2 linked regions of the Homo sapiens genome follow. The protein of the gene in region 2 purifies or fractionates together with the protein of the main gene of each other region. This does not show direct contact. Each region holds a gene or a part of one and is shown on either strand. Other genes may lie near its edges.

The links. The genes of interacting proteins can lie anywhere in the genome.
Region 1: the proteins of TSPAN14 (region 2) and ITGA2 purify together in Homo sapiens (co-immunoprecipitation; one large-scale study listed by IntAct). This does not show direct contact.

The regions. Positions count from the first base shown.
Region 1 is NC_000005.10:53,055,352-53,058,851, forward strand, and holds part of ITGA2 (integrin alpha-2 precursor), read left to right. Parts: intron 1-186; coding exon 187-337; intron 338-632; coding exon 633-798; intron 799-2,673; coding exon 2,674-2,750; intron 2,751-3,500. UniProt on the Homo sapiens protein: Integrin alpha-2/beta-1 is a receptor for laminin, collagen, collagen C-propeptides, fibronectin and E-cadherin. It recognizes the proline-hydroxylated sequence G-F-P-G-E-R in collagen.
Region 2 is NC_000010.11:80,453,152-80,457,109, reverse strand, and holds the start of TSPAN14 (tetraspanin-14), read right to left. Parts: upstream 2,801-3,958; 5' UTR 2,739-2,800; intron 1-2,738. UniProt on the Homo sapiens protein: Part of TspanC8 subgroup, composed of 6 members that interact with the transmembrane metalloprotease ADAM10.

The DNA.
Region 1 (3,500 bases), on a different chromosome or scaffold from region 2:
ACTTCCATTTGTATATGTTTCTCTACAAGCTACAAATGGAACATTAAATATGTCCTCAGAATTAATATGGAGTTACAATAGATTGTGTTTAAAGAAGCTAGTTTCATGTTTCTATTTTAAACCAGAGGTTCTCATATTAACTTCATATTTTGATAGCAAGTCTTTATTTAATTTTATCTGCCACAGAAAATATGCTTATTCAGCAGCTTCTGGTGGGCGACGAAGTGCTACGAAAGTAATGGTAGTTGTAACTGACGGTGAATCACATGATGGTTCAATGTTGAAAGCTGTGATTGATCAATGCAACCATGACAATATACTGAGGTTTGGCATAGCAGTAAGTGGCTTTTCTTTTCACTTGTCTTGCCGCTATTGGGTAAATCTTTCTTTATAGCATCACTTCTCAAGGCTGCACTTTCCCATTGGCTGTTCATAGTTGAATATAAAAGAAAGTTCTTACTCTATCTCTGCTTCTTGATGATTTTCAATCCTGTCTACTAAATAAAGGGTTATGGAAATGTTGCTTGATTTACTTTTCCAGAGGGAATATTGTGTTCAAAATAGGCTAGAATGTACTCATAGGGAAAATGTACAGCAGTAATGACTGCACATTCTCTTCCTCTATTTTCAAGGTTCTTGGGTACTTAAACAGAAACGCCCTTGATACTAAAAATTTAATAAAAGAAATAAAAGCAATCGCTAGTATTCCAACAGAAAGATACTTTTTCAATGTGTCTGATGAAGCAGCTCTACTAGAAAAGGCTGGGACATTAGGAGAACAAATTTTCAGCATTGAAGGTAAAAAAAATAACCTCCTTTCAAGAATTTTCTTCAAAATGTTTAAATAATTGTTTATTATCACATATTTGCTTTACTAATGTTAACTTGTATACCATGTATAAAAAGAGCTACTACAATCAGTAAGAGAAATGGATGAAAAACATGAATAAATAGTTTATAAATGATAAAATACAAATGACTGATAAACATAAGAAAATATTCCCAATTTACAAAGTATATTTCTAAATACTTTCAGTAAGTATTTAAAAACATAAATTAAACCGACAATATGTTTTGCCTAAAAGATGACACAGAATAATAATGTTTAATCCTGGAGAGATTATCAGGAAGCAAAGAAGCTCATACACTGTTGATAGGATGATAAATTGTTATGACTTTTGGGGGACAATGTATGAATATCTATCTATTAGAATCATAAATAGTTTTACCTTTTTACACTGTGTTATGTAAGTTCTAAAATTCTTGAATTTGTTTACAGTAAGCATATATATTTTTAAAATTAGAAAAATACAGCAAAGATTTTTAATAGTTCAGTTTTTGAGGAAGCATTTTATTTATAGGACCTAAAATAATTTACTTAGGTGGCCTTGGAAAATCTAGTTAGTGCAGAAAGATCACGTGTTCAGGAGCTCACTGTGTGGGGGACTAGCACACACTTCACAGTTGGTTAAAAGAAAAAAAAAACACACATCACCCAAATCCTAGTTCTTGATGGTTAACCCGAATAACTCTTTGCAATAAAGACCATATGTTATTGGAAACCTATGTATCAGGTACAGCCTTAGAGTCTGGGGCTAAAGGAATTGCATAAATTATTCATTCATATACTCAAATCTTGATTTGATTATCCATTGGAATTACCCAAAAAGCATTATTGCTTCTTCAGTATCCCATGGTGCTTCAAAGTTGTTTAAATAACCATTTAAATCCAGCATACCCTGAGATAACACAAAATCACTAGGCTATCCACACTGATAATTGTATTTGTTTGTAGTGGAATGAATGAGAACAATTGCAATCTACAAGCTAGCTAGAAATGATTTTGAGCATTATTTGCTATTATGGACTTTGGGGAACATTATTCTATTTTATTAAAAAGTATCTCTACTCATCCTGTGTAAATTATTTTATCTTCTAAATAAGACTATGTTGTACAGTACAGTTTGTCTTCTTTTCTATATTAAAGTGTGAGTCCAGTAATTTAGCTTCCTTTTGTGAAGATTAGTGAAACGTAGCCATTTTGATCACACTGTATGGAAAATAAGTACCAATTGCATCTTACAGTGTTAGTGACACAGGCAAGCACATATACAGAACCAGAACAAACTTCCCAATTGGTAAAATTCCTACTCAGTCTTGAATTCTGATTCCTAATAGCTAACTCAGTTATCTCCCAGCAGTCTTCACTACAGATCAATTGCCCAGCCCTTCCAACTGCATCTGAGATATGTGTACATTATCAGTACCCATATTTCAAAGCTAAAAATTCAGTTAGTTTCTTAGCTAGTAATGATCAAGTTTTTAAAAAATTATCATCTCAGTTTTCACCTTACCTTATACCCTTTGTTGAGTGTCCTTTGGTATCAAGAACGTCATACATATTCTGCTAAATACATTAATGTTCAATTAAAGTTAATGCCAACTTTGAACACTACCTTGGAAGTGTTGTTATTTCCATAACCTGCTAGAACACTTTCTTAGTAATTTCTTCTTCCCAGAATATGCAAGCTCTGTATTTTTGGGTGAGTATTGGAACAGTGTGTGTTTGTGTTTGTGTTTGTAGGCATGTGTGTACATACGTGCCTGCTTGTGTTTGAAAACTTGATTTAAAATTACTGACAGTAATACAATTTTTAAAATTGAATGTTCCAGGTACTGTTCAAGGAGGAGACAACTTTCAGATGGAAATGTCACAAGTGGGATTCAGTGCAGATTACTCTTCTCAAAATGTGCGTATATCAGATAGCTTCAAGCCATGTTGTCATTTGGCATAACACTTCCAGACACAGTAGCCTTATACATAAAATGGGAAGACAGCCATCTAGGGATCAGCCCTTCTGATTCCTAGTCACGGTCATTTAGTTTCTTTGTGCTGCTGATTTACCTCTAAAATTTGAAGGATAATAATGTCTTCCCTTCCCTGTTTCACAGGGATCTTATATGGGGGAAAACTGATAGTATACCAGAAAGTCTTTGAGTACCCCAGGGCACAGACTGTATATTAACTTAAGGTATTATTCCTGCAGGAATTTTCTTTGAATCAATTAACTACTGGAAATGTTTGTTAAAAACACGTACTCTTGTCATCACCGTCATGGTCGAATTCTGAATGGTCATAGTATCTTTTTCTAAGAGCAGACAGAAAAGAGTTGAAAAAATAAGGAGGTAGGAAAAACGTGAGGTGGAATTGGAATACAACACTGTCTTTTCAGCTCGGGGAAGTCTATTTCTATCTCTCAGAAACATCCACCTCCTGGGCCCCTGATTCTAATTTGAGTCAGGAGGTGAGAGAGATAGTGAAAGGAGGCGAAAAAAAAAAGAAAGAGATCCTGGGAATTATTTAAGGAACAGTAGGAAATCCCAGGATTTGATCGGCAGGTCAGAGGACCAAGAACAGCTTGTTTTCTATCTAGAATCAAAGGAACTGACTTTTTCTGGATCATCAATCCTTAGAGATGCTCATAGAAGTTATGGATCTT
Region 2 (3,958 bases):
GGAGCTGTTGACATCACGGTTGTTTTGCTTTTTGTTTTTTGTTTTTTGAGATGGAGTTTCATTCTTGTTGCCCAGGCTGGAGTGCAACGGCGCGATCTCAGCTCACTGCAACCTCCACCTCCCAGATTGAAGCAATTCTCCTGCCTCAGCCTCCCAAGTAGCTGGGATTATAGGCATGTGCCACCACGCCCAGCTAATTTTGTATTTTTCGTAGAGACAGGGTTTCACCGTGTTGGTCAGGCTGGTCTTGAACTCCTGACCTCAGGTGATCCACCCACCTCGGCCTCCCAAAGTGCTGGGATTACAGGCATGAGCCATCACGCCCAGCCATCACAGCTGTTTTCAAGGATTAAATGAGTTATTACAAGTCAAACTTCTAGGGTGTAAGTCTCAATAAACTCACATTAGTATCACTATGAAATAATCTTGTCCTTCACTAAATTTTAAGCCAGCAAAGGTTTCCCAGGCCTGGCACAATGCCACTTTGCAGGCACTGCTAAAAGGAATTCTACCTCAGTTGAAGTTAAATGGGTCAAATTCCTGAGCACATGGTGGCATAGAGTGAGGCCTCAGGAAATAGTTCCAGAACCCAGGGCTTTCCTGCTCCCCGGCCTCCATGGGAACTTCACTTCACTGCCGCCACAACCTTCAGGGCAGAGCCATCTCCTCTCCCACTTCATACTGCCACTTCCTACATGAGAAGGACCTTCACCAGTCCTCAGAGACTAGCACAGCTGCCCAGCTGGTGAAGGGGACAATTCCCTGGGCAGCCAACCATTCTGCAGCTCCATGCCCTTTCTTCCTGGGGCAGCCACAAACCTTCAGAAGCACCCATGGGCTCAGACCCCCCCCACAACCCCGTCTCCCTAAATGATCCTGCTACGCTGAGATCAAGCTCAGATCAATAAACACTACTGAGCACCTATGCCATGTCCAGCCTGGGTTCTAAGACCACACCAAGTTCATAGCTGGTGAGGGACTTTCCAGACTTGGAATAGTGCCTGCAACAATGCCTCGCACCCCACAGAAATCTCAACCATGCTTTGTTAACTAAACTGAGGATGACATTAGGTGGCCCAAGCAGTGGAGTTCAGAGATGTGGGGATGGATATATCCAGAGTCTCCAACTGAAGTTGGGGTGCAACACAATGAGAAGGAAAGGGAAAATACATCTGGTGGCCCTGGGTTTCCAGGGCCTGTCACTATAACGTTAGGGATCGGAGTGGGATCAGACTGCGCGTGGTGGCTCACACCTGTAATCCCTGTGCTTTGGGAGGCTGAGGTGGGAGGATCACTTGAGCCCAGCAATTTGAGGCTATGATCACACCAGCAGCTAAGGGGATAGAAGGGCATACAGGGCCATTATGGTGGAGTCTGGGCTTCATTCTGGGGGTGCCAGGGCCCAGGAAGATCCCTGGAAAGACGGCCGCCCCCACCAACCACTCGGCTAGCTGAAATGTGGCAAGGACATAGGGGTGCTCCGATGGCCTGTCCCCAGGTTTCCCTTCACAAATAGAGAAGGGTGGCCGGAGCACTCAGCAGGCACTAACTGCTTCTGGACTTCAAGGTCAAGGGGCAAGGGGAAGGCTACTTTTGAGGATTTGGCAGGCCACTCTCTCACTAGCCCAAGAGCAACTCCCTCTCGGAAGGGAGGAAGATCCCCTGGAGAGCAGACCACTGCCAAGAGCACACCTGCAGAGGCTCCAATACAATGCTCTGCACAGCCGCCCAGCACCGCCTGACCTCCCGGATAGCAGCGCCAGCACAGCCAACGAGTGTGTGACACCGCCGCACTCACCACCGCTCTGCGCCCAGCCCCAGGCCAGTACCCGGGCCCACGACTTCCCCCGACTCCCCCTAGCACGGACTGTTTCTCGCCGGAGATCAACTTTAAGTCCCCAAGACAAGTGCTCCTGCGGTCCCAGGGCCAAAGTCCCTCCACACACCCTCACACAGGCACTTCCTACCCACCCGCACCCCACCCCTGGGGGTGGAGGAGAAGCAGCAGCGGCCCGGGACAAGCACAGTCCGCAGCCACAAACCTCACTCTACCAGAACTCCGGCTAGGTCAGGGGTCAGGCTTTGCTCCCAAACACAACCCCACACGACTAACGCGGAGAAGCTGGGTCACCGCCTACTCAAACTCCGGCCGTCCCAAACCCAAGCCGGGCAGAGTGGGACCCACGGCGGCGTGGGAGACTGAGCACAACCACGGCGGGGCAGGAGGAAGGGGCGGCCCGCCCCGGCCTACGCCCACCCCCACCCCGGACCCGATCTCCTGGGAGCCGAGGGTGGGTGACTGAGCCGAAAGGGTGGCCCATCCCCGAGCTCGCTGCTGGGGACGAGAAGCAGAGCCCCGAGCAGCAGCGGCCGTCCAGGCTCCCGTCGCCCTCACCCCGCCCGGCACGGGCGCGCACTCGCCGGGGCGCGCTGATGGGGCGAGGGCTACCGAACCAGGAGTGCCGGCCCCGGGCCCGCCGCGGCTCTCGTCCGCGCGGCGCCGGAGTTCGGCTCAGCGGGGTCCCGGCGGAGGCCTCCAACCTCTAGCGAGCAATCCTGGCAGACAAAGCCAGCGCCGCCCGCGGGGCCGCTCCTGGGCAGGCGGGGAGGGAGGCTGAGGGGCCAAACAGGGACCTAAGGAGCAGCCCTCGCCCCCGGAGAACGCTCGGGGAAGTCGGCCTCAGACAAAGAAAGGGGCAGGGCCCGACGCCCCAGCCAGGTCTCCGCGCTCTACTCACCCGCGCGCGGCGGCGGCAGCGGCGGCGCGGCCCGGCTCGGCCGAGGAAGTTAGAGCAAGTTCCGCGGCGCGGGGCGGGAGGGCGCGACTCGGGCCGTCCGAGCGGCGGGGGCGGGGCGCGGAGGGGCGCGGAGGGGCGGGGCCGGAGGCGCGGCGCCTGCCGTCTGCCGAGGAAGGGGCGCCGCTTCCCTGCGCCGCCCGGTGCGGCCCCGGGCGCCTGGGCCCGCCCTGGCCCCGCCCCTCCCCCAGCCGCCTCGCCCCTCCCCCACCGCACCCCGCCTCCCGGCCCGCGCGGCACCGGGGACCGCGAGGCCGGGTCGCCGGCCCGCCCCTTTGTCCCGCTCTGGGCGGTGCCGGAGGCTTGGGGCGGCCCCGGTCCGCGCCCTCCCAGTGGGTGCGCGGCGCAGGCCGGGCCTGGCCCGGGGCCGGGCACTTGTAGCCGCCGGGAGCGCTCTGAGCCGTTGCGCTGCGCAGACGCCGCTCTGGCCTTGTCGGAGCCGAACCTGGGAGAAGCACGAGCTGTGGGAGGCGGCGTCTCGAGGGATACACGGGATGACCGTGGAGAGCGGGCGAAGGATTAGGAAAATGGCTGTGGTGGAGATAAGAGGCGTTCCTGCCCGGCTTTGGAGCCTGGGGGCGGGGGTAGTCTTCAATCAAAAGAAGGATGGGGAAAAGGTTTTTATTTCTTTGTAAACCAAGGAGTAAGGACACGCTCCTTCTGGCCTTGGTGCTAAAAATACCAAGCTTTCTTTGGATCGTGGCTGAGATTTCTTCCTAACCTTTACGCTAAAGAGGTGGCTGGGACGATTCTTGTGGTGTAGGGGGGTTTCCAGGGACAGCCAGGGGTGGCGCCCCTCTTTGGATCGTGGCTGAGATTTGTTCCTCACCTTTACGCTAAAGAGATGGCTGGGACGATTCCTGTGGGGTAGAGGGGTTTCCAGGGATAGCCAGGGGCGGCTCCCCAGCCTCAGCCTCCCTACCTGTAGAATGAAGCATGCCACACCTCTGTTTCTTAAACTTATTCGGTGGCTGAGGGCCGAGTGGTCTTCTCTGTTGAGTAACACCAAACAGGGATCTATTAAAACTGGGCTAAGACTGGTTGCCACATGCCAGTACAAGCAACCAACAGGTTAATTCCAATGGAAGGAGGAAATCTTGAAATGGAGACTGTTCAGTCCATTCCCAGGTTTGTTTGGGTTGTTTTTTGAGCTAAGGTATCGC